Homo sapiens: one gene and its partners. The protein of the gene in region 1 purifies or fractionates together with the protein of each later gene. This does not show direct contact. Each region holds a gene or a part of one and is shown in the gene's direction. Other genes may lie near its edges. The genes, in order: POLR3C, POLR2E and POLR3H.

Region 1 (3,746 bases):
CTGTAGGCAGTTGTAACGCAGTAGCATCTGTGTATCTAAACATCTAATCACAGAAAAGGTACAGTAAAAATATGGTATGAAAAATTAAAAACCACACCTGTTTAGTGCACTTAACATGAATGGAGCTTTCAGGACTAAAAGTTGCCCTGTGGGAGTTAGTGAATGAATGGCAGATTAATGTGAATGTGATGGTCTACACGCTCAGGCTACACTGTATTTATTAAAAACCAGTAACAGGCTGAGCGGGGTGGCTCACGCCTGTAATCCTAGCACTTTGGGAGGCCCAGGCTGGTGGGTTGCCTGAGCTCAGGCGTTTGAGACCAGCCTGGGCAACATGGTGAAACCCATCTACTAAAATACAAAAAAAAAAAAAAAAATTAGCCGGGCATGGTGGCATGCGCCTGTGGTCCCAGCTACTCGGGAGGCTGAGGCAGGAGAATTGCTTGAACCCAGGAGGCAGAGGTTGCAGTGAGCCAAGATCATACCACTGCACTCCAGCCTCACCACACATGTGAGTAATGTGTTTCACAACGGCATTGTGCTATGATGTTACAACAGCTATGACATCACAAAGCAGTAGGAATTTTTCAGCTCCAGTATAATATGGGACCACAGCTGCACACGGTCCGTTGTTGACTAAAATGTTATATGGTGCATGACTGTGTTTAAATATTCCTATATTTTTATATTGTTTATTTTAAAGTTCTATGGCCAGGTGCAGTGACTCACACTTGTAATCCTAGAACTTTGGGAGGTTGAGGCAGAAGGATCCCTTGAGGCCAGGAGTTGAAGACCAACCTGGGCAACATGACAAGACCCCCGTCTCTACAAAAAATTTTTTTAAAAAATTAGTTGGGTGTGGTGCCATATGCCTGTAGTCACAGCTATTCGAGAGGCTGAGGCAGGAGGATTGCTTGAGCCCAAGAGTTGAGGTTGCAGTCAACTATGATCATGCCACTGCACTCCAGCTTAAACAACAGAGCAAAACCCTATTTCAAAAAAAAAAAAAAAAAAAAAAGGCCGGACGCAGCAGCTCACACCCGTAATCCCAGTACTTTGGGTGGCCGAGGCAGGCAGATCACCTGAGGAGTTCAAGACCAGCATAGTCCAACATGGTGAAACCTCATCTCTACTAAAATTACAGAAATTAGCCAGGCATGGTGATGGGCGCCTGTAATCCCAGCTACTTGGGAGGCTGAGGCAGGAGAATCGCTTGAACCCGGGAATGGGAGGTTGCAGTGAGCTGAGATCGCACCACTGCACTCTAGCCTGGGAAACAGAGTGAGACTCTGTCTCAAAAAAAAAAAAAAAGTTTGGTATATATCTTTATTCAGACCTTGCATACTCTAACATATATGTGGGTATATGTATTTTTTAACCCCAAAATGGGACTATTCATATGGCTTTTTGGTTGGGTTTTGTTTGTTTGTTTTTGTTTTTTTGTGACAGAGTCTTGTACTCTTTCACCCAGGCTGGAGTGCAGTAGCGCAATCTCAGCTCACTGCAACCTCCGCCTCCTGGGTTCAAGGCATTCTCCTGCTCATCCTTCCGAGTAGCTGAGATCACAGGCACATGCCACCACGCCAGGCTAATTTTTGTATTTTTAGTAGAGACAGGGTTTCACTGTGTTGGCCAGGCTGGTCTCGAACTCCTGACATCAAGTGATCCTCCCACCTCAGCCTCTCAAAGTGCTGGCATTACAAAGTCGTGATCCACCACACCCAACCTAGTCATACTGTTCTATAACTTGATTTTTTATATGACAGTGTATGTAAAACTTCCTTTCATGTTAGTTTCTGTAGATTTGTCTCACTCTTCATAATGACTGTATCATATTCCACTTAATGGCCGTGCTATATTTTATTTTAGTGTACTCGGTACTGGTCATTTGGGTGTTTCTAGTTTTTTACTCTTACAAACAATCCTGCTGTGAATATTTTTGGACAGTTTTGTGGTAACTAAAATTAAAACTTTTTTTTTTTTTTTTTTGAGACGGAGTTTCGCCCTTGTAGCCCAGGCTGGAGTCCATTGGCGCAATCTCGGCTCACTGCAACCTCTGCCTCCCAGGTTCAAGCAGTTCTCCTGCCTCAGCCTCCCAAATAGCTGGGATTACAGGCATGCGCCACCACGTCCAGCTAATTCTGTATTTTTACTAGAGACGGGGTTTCACCATATTGGTCAGGCTGGTCTCCAACTCTTGACCCAAAGTGATCCACCTGCCTCAGCCTCCCAAAGTGTTCGGATTACAGGCCTTAGCCACTGTGCCCGGCCTAAAACATCTTTATTTCAGTAAGGTCAGGAGTTCTAAGTTCCCAAACCCATTTTAAGTGTCCTTTGCTCCATAGATCTTCAGATCCCTACCTGTTGGCTATAACATCTCTAAGCAAGTTCTTGATCAGTATCTCACTCTGCTGGCAGATGATCCAGTAAGTCTGTTTTTGCTTTTTTTCTTTTTTCTTTAGCCTGTACTGTTGATAATTTATTTCTGCACTGATACCTAGTGTCATCCTCCTGCAGAGTTATTCTCTACCTAGCCAGCCCAGACAATTTCTCCACATCATTTGATAGGAGGGCTACCTGCTGCAGACTTTTGGTCAGATTTGTTCCATTGGAAACAGAATCACTGGACTTTCCGTTCAGTTAACACTCTCTCTTTTTCTTAATAGCTAGAGTTTGTTGGAAAGTCTGGCGACAGTGGTGGAGGAATGTATGTCATCAGTATCCTTACCAGTTATTTCCTTAGAGTCAGGCAGCCTGACCTATAAATCAGAATGGTGCCTTAGGAAAGAAAGATTTGGTAATGTTTATTATACTAAATAAATTAGAAAATTGAAGTAATTGTTAAATAAATTTTTCTATGAATTTTCAGTGAACTGCATTGATGATGAAGTAAAAAGAGGCCAGGCATGGTGGACTTTGGGAGGCTGAGGCAGGTGAATTGCATGAACCCAGGAGTTCAAGATCAGCTAAGCAACATGGCAAAACCCCATCTCTACCAAAAATACAAAAACTAGCCAGCTGTAACGATGCATGCTTGTAGTCCAGCTCCTCAGGAGGCTGAGGTGGGAGGATCGCTAGAGCCCAGGAGACAGACGTTGCAGTAAGCTGAGATCATGCCACTGTACTCCAACCTGGGTGACCCTGTCTCAAAAAAGAAAAGGAAAAAGGACTTTTAATCAACCAAATTTTAGTTAAGCAAAACCCTTACTTAAACACTTGTATTAAAGTTTTGGAATATTTATGTACCATGACTGAAACCATAAATTATAACATGAAAAACAAAATAGCATTTAAAATTTAATTATAAATTAGAAACTTAGGAATAAAACTCAGATCACAATAACTAGGCCAAAACATTACTGAGTGACCTTAATTCTCTACATAAAGACCTCCATAAGGCATTAGCATCCCTAGCCACAGCCACTCTGGAGTCCGTCGTACAGGAGAGGTAAGGGGGACACTGGTTGGGTTTGGGATCACATACTTCCTATCCCCAGTGAAGTAATTTGATCATTATGTAAGCCACCAATATAACCACACCTTGGCATACTTTTCCCCATTTTTTCACTGGACTCCTATGGATCTCATGTAATACTGCTCTTTACCTTAAAATAACCTACTGTTTAATTCCTACCGATGCAAATTAACCAGCCTCCCTAAAGCCTTTGCTTACAAATGTAGGAACTGTGGCACTCAAATGAGTCAGCAGTTGGTGACTGCCTTATGATTAACAGCAGTTGGTGATG
Region 2 (3,746 bases), on another chromosome or scaffold:
GTTTAGAACTGTTGACTTCAAGTGATCCACCTGCCTCAGCCTCCCAAAGTGCTAGGATTACAGGTGTGAGCCACCGCACCCGGCCTCAGGTGATGCTTCTTAAAGAGAGCGTCCTGGGGTGTGAGGTCTGCTTGTTGGAGAGGTTGGTGCTGAGTCACCCGCCTCCCCAGAACTGCCCAGGGTGGGAGCCTCTCAGAGTCGAAGGTCTCTGCTTCTCCCTGGTCTCTGGGTGACTGAGGGGTGTCAGCCCCCTGTCCCTGTCTCCGGGTGAATGAGAGGTTTCAGCCCTCTCTTCCCCTGTCCTGGGATCCTGCAACTCAGGCCTCGTTTTGCAAACGCGGAAGCCGAGGCCCGAGCAGGAGAGACACCTGTGTGGAATGGGGCTGGAACCTGGGTGCTCTGGGCTCTGGGTGGGCGAGGGCCACGAGGGCCCAGGCTCGTGCAGGCCAGCACACTCTCTGTCTGCAGAGGAGCCCAAGGTGGGCATCAAGACCATCAAGGTGTACTGCCAGCGCATGCAGGAGGAGAACATCACACGGGCTCTCATCGTGGTGCAGCAGGGCATGACACCCTCCGCCAAGCAGGTGGGCACCCCTGCCCCACCCCGCCAGCCTCTCCCCCTCCCCAGCCTCCTCCCGCAAGCAGTACCCACAGGCGGCCCACGTGCCTTGGGCTTTGGGCCAGGCCAGCCAGGGTGCCCTGGAGGATGTGGCCGGGATGTCCGGCAAGCCCCGACCGCCTCCCTCCCACCGCGTCCATGGGCCCCACCCCAGGCAGCCGCCGTCCTCCCCCAGCTCTCAGGAGGGGCGTCAGGGCGGAGGGCACTGTGCCTCTCGCCAGCTCCTGTGGGCTCCAGCCCTCGGCCTGGTGCAGATTCCAGGAGCCGGAGGTTCTTTATCCTGAGCTGATGTCCAGGGGGACTTGCAGAGGAGGCCCGGCACGGGGTCCTCCAGGGGCCTATCCGTGTTCCCCGTCTGTCTGTCGGACACTCTGGAGCCAGGCTGCTGTGCTGTGACGGGCAGTCAGCAGAGCAGTTTAGTCCCTGGCCCACCAGCTGTGGGGTTCACGCAGCCACACAGAGCAGCACCCCTGTATGGGGAAGAGGTCGCCCTGCCAGCTCTGAGGGCCGCCCCTGGAAGCGTGTGATGGATGGAAACACATCCGAGTTTCCACGGCCACTTCACTGCTGGATGAGGCTCTCGATGAGCAGAGAGGCTGGGGAGGGGCGGGCTGTTGAAGGCTCCTGGGCTGGCGGTGGGGTTTTCTGATTCACGACGTGGGTGTGTTGTTGGGGCACACGAGTAAGCCCCAGGTAGCTTGAGGCAGGAAATGGGGTTGGGGTTGTCTGGGCCCCTCCGGGCCGTGCCTTAGAGCCGCTCTCTTCCAGTCCCTGGTCGACATGGCCCCCAAGTACATCCTGGAGCAGTTTCTGCAGCAGGAGCTGCTCATCAACATCACGGAGCACGAGGTGGGCGCGCGCCGCGGAATCCCGCCTGCGTGGGGCCGGCAGAGATGCAGCGTTTGTGGGTGGCCAGGAAGATGTGGGATCTGGGGCCCAGGGCAGGTGTTCCTATTAGTGCATGGAGGACAGGGTTCTCAAAGGGTGGCCCTGGGCCTGCAGCAGCCGAACCCGGGAGCTTCCTAGAAATGCAGATCCCGGCCGGGCGCGGTGGCTCACACATGTAATCCCAGCACTTTGGGAGGCCGAGGCGGGCGGATCACGAGGTCAGGAGTTCCAGACCATCCTGGCTAACACGGTGAAACCCCGTCTCTACTAAAAATACAAAAAAATTAGCCAGGCGTGGTGGCGAGCGCCTGTAGTCCCAGCTACTCGGGGAGCCGAGATTGTGCCACTGCACTCCAGCCTGGGAGACAGAGCAAGACTCCATCTCAAAAAAAAAAAAAAAAAAAAAAATGCAGATCCCGGGCCCACCCCAGCCTGTAGAATCGGGACTGCTGGGAGTGTGGAGGGACCCTAGTGCTGGGACAGGAGGAGTCCCAGCAGGAGGTGGCTGTGCCCAGCCCGTCTGCCTCAGAAGCCCCAGGAGCTGTGACTCCGTCCCCCGCCTGTGGAGCCAGGGTGGGGTGGGTGGGCTCCCTGAGTGCCGGGGATCGGGGTGGGGTTCAGGGCTCTTGTCCGTCTGAAGGCGCAGGGGCTGTGGTGGCACCTGGGAGCCACGTGGGGTCTCACCAGCCCTTGGTGATGCCTGGTGGCTTCCTCTCTCGGCAGCTAGTCCCTGAGCACGTCGTCATGACCAAGGAGGAGGTGACAGAGCTGCTGGCCCGATAGTATCCTTTCCAGCCCCACCGGCCCCGCCCCTCCCTGTCCCTCGAGACTTCCGCGTTCCCCCCCCACACACACCCCTGCCCCCCCAACGGCCCTGTCTGGCATTTTCCTGACGGTGCTTCGCAGTAAGCTCCGAGAGAACCAGCTGCCCAGGATCCAGGCGGGGGACCCTGTGGCGCGCTACTTTGGGATAAAGCGTGGGCAGGTGAGCCCTGTGGGGAGAAGGGGCCCTGGGGCTGCTCTGAGCTGACCACTCGGAGAAGGGGGCTTCTGTCCCTCCCCGACAGCCCCTCCCCCTTGATCCAGGGCCTGGAGGGGACCTCGAGACCACACCCCCAATATCCCCCTCTTAAAGCCAGGGCCACTGGGCCCAGAGAAGAGCGTGACCCAGGTTCCCAGGGAGCGGGTCCCACAGCCCAGGGTCAGCCATCTCGGACCCCTGCCGGCCATCCCCAGCCCGTGTGCTGCCCGCCTGCTGTCTGGTGACTGCAGTGAGACCCCTCAAGCATTCGCAGCCCCTGCTCTCTGTCTCTGCAGGTGGTGAAGATCATCCGGCCCAGTGAGACGGCTGGCAGGTACATCACCTACCGGCTGGTGCAGTAGCTACCGCCTGACAGGTGAGACGGCCGAGGGACAGGCACTGAGGTGGGGTCAGAGGCAGGGGTGTCGTCCCCTCCGTCGGTGTGCAGGGCTGTTCTTGCTTTGTCCGGCAGCAAGACCCTCCTAGCACCAGCCCAGCTGGGCCACCAGGCGCTCCCAGGACACCCCCAGACCCCCAGACCCCACCCGACCGTAGGCTGCAGCTCTTGGGGCTGTGCGCCTGGACGGGAGAGTCCTGGTACGCGGGGCGTGCGTCTCTCCGCCGCTGACCCACCTTAGAAGCAGGAGACGTTCACCTGCAGGGCAGTTGTGCGGCGGGACTTTCCAGAAGAGGGTTTAGAAACCTGCCCAGAGACCCCAGAGCTGAGAGAGGAGGCACAGCTTCAGGCCAACCCTTCCCTGAGTGGGCACCTTGGGAGGGACTGGCCGGAGTCTCAGGAGCGGGACAGCCTCTGCCCATGGCGAGAGCCTCCCAGCTTCCCCTGGACTCTGGTCATGGCGAGCTGCTGTCCTGCAGGCCGCCCCACTTCACACTCAGCCCAGGGGTGGGGCTTGGCCTGGTCTGACGCTGGCACGGTTCCTTTGAGGTCAGAGCTACTGCCCACGCCTGTGTGACCGCTGGGCACAAGGGAGCCGTCCGGCCTCTGCACTGCGGCCTGGGCCGCCTCCTGCCAGGCCTCCCGCACCCCGTCACGTTCGGTGGGCGTTGTGCTGTCCTGGGCATACTGGATCTGCCCCTGTCGTGTGACCACTCTCCCCCTTTCCTAGCCCCTAGAGGCGGACACACAGCGACCCCCATCCCTGCAGGACAAACGCCCCTGCCCTGCCAGAATCCGGCCCCCACAGCTCTCACGGCTGC
Region 3 (3,746 bases), on another chromosome or scaffold:
AGGAGACACTGAGTAGCCAGTCGTTTGAACCACAGTGGTGTGGGGTGAGGGCATGGGATTTCTGCACATTCTTGGGGCCTAGGTCTTGTGTCCCTCTGCCAGCTGCAGTCCCTGTGGCTGCGTCTGTGTGTCTGAGATGTTGTGAGCACAGTGGGGTTTAGCTGTGGCTGTGACGCTCACTAAACTGTGAGCTCTGGCATTGGCTTTGGGATGTCGGAGAGTGCACGTTTAGGCAGCATTCCTGTCACTGGTCCTCACTAGTAATAACAAAGATCCTTGATGATGATGGTTTCCAATACACGAGCCAGGTACAAGGCTAGGGGCTTCACATCTGTTATCTCTCTTTATTTTATAACTCTGCAGCCTGGTATTTCACATTTGCAGATGGGGAGACCGAGGCTCAGAGAGGTGAAGTGACCCTCTTGGCAGTCACACAGTGGGTGGTGGAGCTGGCCTTGGAACCTGGACCTGTTTTGTCACCCGAGGCCCTGCTCCTTCCAGAGCTCTGCATCCTTCTGAGGTTCCTTACCCTGGTCCCCTCCACAAACTCATTTTCACCTAAAAAAGGAGATAATCATGGCTTGCTTGTGGTTGTGAGGGGCTCAGATTGCCTGGGAGCTGGGCCTGTGGTCACTCTGTATCCATGTGTACTTGTGTGTCTGTGTTTGTATGCATGCAGGTCGTGTACAACGTGGGACTCTGCATTTGTCTGTTTGATATCACCAAACTGGAGGATGCCTATGTATTCCCTGGGGATGGCGCATCACACACCAAAGGTGGGTATCTTCTGTCCCTGGGGCATTGGGCTTCTTGGGGCTCAGTTTTCTGTAGCCAAAGGTCAAGCCAAATCCAGGTTCAGTGGTGCGTGCCTGTAAGGCTGAGGGCGGAAGGATCTCTTGAGCCACAGAGTTCAAGGCCAGCCTGGGCAACATAGCAAGACCCTGTCTTTAAATACATAAATAAAATATGAAAAAATTTTAAAAGGCTAAAGTCAAAGAGATGGCCAGAGGGTGGTGGGAGTCCTGGAGGCTGGGAGACGTGGGGCCTCATCCTGAATCGGCCAGGAATTGACCCGGTGACAGCGGCAGACTTCTCTTCTCTGGGCCTCTGTTCCCTCATCTGTGAGGCCTGGGATGTGGACTAGTTGGTTTTCAAGGCCTCTTCAGCTCTGACTTCATAGCTCTGTGTCTGTGCCCTTTTGGTCTCATTGCTACTGAGCCCTGCACCTTGTCCATTCCTCGGGCTTCCCGCTGCCTGTGGAGAGCAGACGGAAGGGGGATCAGCAGGCTGGCTGGGGGTGGGGGACTTGGATAGTAGGACACAGTAGGTAAGAGTGTGGCCTCAAGATTAAAAGCTGAGCTCTGCTTCTTACTAGCTGTGTGTCCTGGCTGAATATGTCATTGCTCTGTGCCTCTGCTTCCTTATCTGTCAGTTGCAGTTCAGGATGTCAACTGCAGTTTAGGATAGATTTTATATTCTAAGACCATTGTGAGGATTAAGGAGTTAATACATGAAAGCTCTTAGGACAGAGCCTTGGCACCTAACGAGCACTCAGTGACTTATCAGCGTGGATTGTTTCTCCCTATTCTGTCGGTCAGTTGGGTGGTTTTCCTCTCATCTGGCTGGCCTGGGGCTGGACAATCTAGGACGGTCTCACATTCTGAAGGTTGGCAGACTGGTTGGTTACTGGGGGCCTGGGCTGGGCTGGCCCATCTCTGCCCCACATGGTCTCATCTTTCAGTAGGCCAGGCTGGGCTTGGCGGTTTTAAGGTTCCAAAGTTCAGTGCGTAAGTACTTCTCAAGCCTCTGCTTCCATCCCGTTGGCTAGGGTGAGGGGATGGAGAAATAGACTTCACCTCTGGGTGGGAGAAACTGCAGTCACATTGCAAAAGGGTGTGCATCCAGGAATGGAAGGTGATCACCAGATCCTGGAAGGAGGGAGGAGTAGAGAGAGGACCACCCTGAGAGGAGCCAGGACCACCAGTCAAGGGAGGTGATGAGCCCCAGGAGAGGGGCATTCTTCATTCTCATGTCTGGACCAAACCAGTGTATAGGAGATGGTGAGAGGCCCATTGAGACGGTTCAGGCTCCCAGAGCGCAGGCGCCAAGCCTGCCATCCCTTGGGCACTCAGAGCGCAATTCTCAGCCTGCCCCAGGCCTCCCTCCGCCTGAGTCAGAATCTTGGGGGATGGGTCCAAATACTTTTTTTTTTTTTTAAGACAGAGTCTTGCTCTGTTGCCCAGGTTGGAGTGCAGAAGTGTGATCTTGGCTCACTGCAACCTCCACCTCCCAGCATCAAGCAATTCTCCTGCCTCAGCCTCCCGAGTAGCTGGGATTATAGGCACGTGCCACCACGCCTGGCTAATTTTTGTATTTTTAGTAGAGGGGGTTTCACCATGTTGGTCAGAATGGTCTCGAACGCCTGACCTCGTGATCCGCCCACCTCGGCCTCCCAAAGTGCTGGGATTACAGGCGTGAGCCACTGCCCCCAGCCCCAAAGACTGTTTTAACAAGGTACCAGGTGGTTGTCACACGAGCTCATGTTGGATAAGCCCTGCTGTAGTCCATACTGGTCAGCCTCTCAGCACAGAGATGCCAGAACATTCCAGAGTATGCTGTGAGACTGCCTAGTGTCTGTGTCCAGCCATTCAGGGAATTAATTAGTTCGCATGGATGTTACCATGGTACGCCGAGAGGCCGAAGAAACAGGCTGTCTTTGTACAGACTAGGAGCATTTTCATTAGCAGAGAAATAAGATTGCAGTGTGAAAACAACCACGAGGGCCTCTGTTTACAGAGAAGGATGCCGAGCTGAGCCCAGTCTCCGCATTTGGACAGGGGCCTTGGTTGTCCAGGAGACAAGTGGTAATAGGTACTAGAACTTCCAGAAAAACTTGGAGAAAAAAGTCAAGTTGCGGCCGGGTGTGGTGGCTCACGCTTGTAATCCCAGAACTTTGGGAGGTAAAGGCGGGTGCATCACCTGAGGTCAGGAGTTCTAGACCAGCCTGGCCAACATGGCAAAACCTCATCTCTACTAAAACTACAAAAAAAGCCAGGCACGATGGCTCACTTCTGTAATCCCAGCACTTTGGGAGGCCGAGGCGGGCAGATCATGAGGTCAGGAGATCTCCTGGCTAACACGGTGAAACCCTGTCTCTACTAAAAATACAAAACATTAGCCAGGTGTGGCGGCAGGCACCTGTAGTCCCAGCTACTCAGGAGGCTGAGGCAGGAGAATGGAGTGAACCCAGGAGGCGGAGCTTGCAGTGAACCGAGATCGCACCACTGCACTCCAGCCTGGGCAACAGAGTGAAACTCCGTCTCAAAAAAAAAAAAAAAAAAATTATTTGGGTGTGGTGGCACATGTCTGTAATCCCAGCTACTCCGGAGGCTGAGGCAGGAGAATCGCTTGAACCCAGGAGGCAGAGGTTGCAGTGAGCTGAGATTGTGCCACTGCACTCCACCCTAGGCGACAGGGTGAGACTGTATCTCAAAAAAAAAAAAAAAAAATTAGCCAGGTCTGGTGGTGTACACACCTGTAATCTCAGCTCCCTGGGAGGTGGAGGTGGAGGCAGGAGAATCGCTTGAACCCAGGAGGCCAAGAACACGCCGCTGCACTCCAGCTGGGTGACAGAGAGAGACCCCGTCTCAAAAAAAAAAAGTTGGAGGAAATTCTGTCTATTCAATTGGAAGATTTCTACTGCTGGCTTTTATTAGCCCCCACCCTCATCTGTCCTGAGTCTCTGT

What was found.
Region 2: the proteins of POLR3C (region 1) and POLR2E purify together in Homo sapiens (affinity purification with mass spectrometry; 5 studies listed by BioGRID and IntAct, with this or other methods). This does not show direct contact.
Region 3: the proteins of POLR3C (region 1) and POLR3H purify together in Homo sapiens (affinity purification with mass spectrometry; 5 studies listed by BioGRID and IntAct, with this or other methods). This does not show direct contact.

Annotation. Positions count from the first base shown.
Region 1 is NC_000001.11:145,834,149-145,837,894, forward strand, and holds part of POLR3C (DNA-directed RNA polymerase III subunit RPC3), read left to right. Parts: intron 1-2,345; coding exon 2,346-2,426; intron 2,427-2,666; coding exon 2,667-2,718; intron 2,719-2,869; coding exon of another isoform or gene 2,870-2,872; exon of another isoform or gene 2,873-3,343; intron 3,344-3,387; coding exon 3,388-3,448; intron 3,449-3,746. UniProt on the Homo sapiens protein: DNA-dependent RNA polymerase catalyzes the transcription of DNA into RNA using the four ribonucleoside triphosphates as substrates.
Region 2 is NC_000019.10:1,088,630-1,092,375, reverse strand, and holds part of POLR2E (DNA-directed RNA polymerases I, II, and III subunit RPABC1), read left to right. Parts: intron 1-468; coding exon 469-584; intron 585-1,387; coding exon 1,388-1,468; intron 1,469-2,230; coding exon 2,231-2,289; intron 2,290-2,410; coding exon of another isoform or gene 2,411-2,413; coding exon 2,414-2,492; intron 2,493-2,824; coding exon 2,825-2,890; 3' UTR 2,891-2,904; intron 2,905-3,655; 3' UTR 3,656-3,746. UniProt on the Homo sapiens protein: DNA-dependent RNA polymerase catalyzes the transcription of DNA into RNA using the four ribonucleoside triphosphates as substrates.
Region 3 is NC_000022.11:41,537,729-41,541,474, reverse strand, and holds part of POLR3H (DNA-directed RNA polymerase III subunit RPC8), read left to right. Parts: intron 1-679; coding exon 680-776; intron 777-3,746.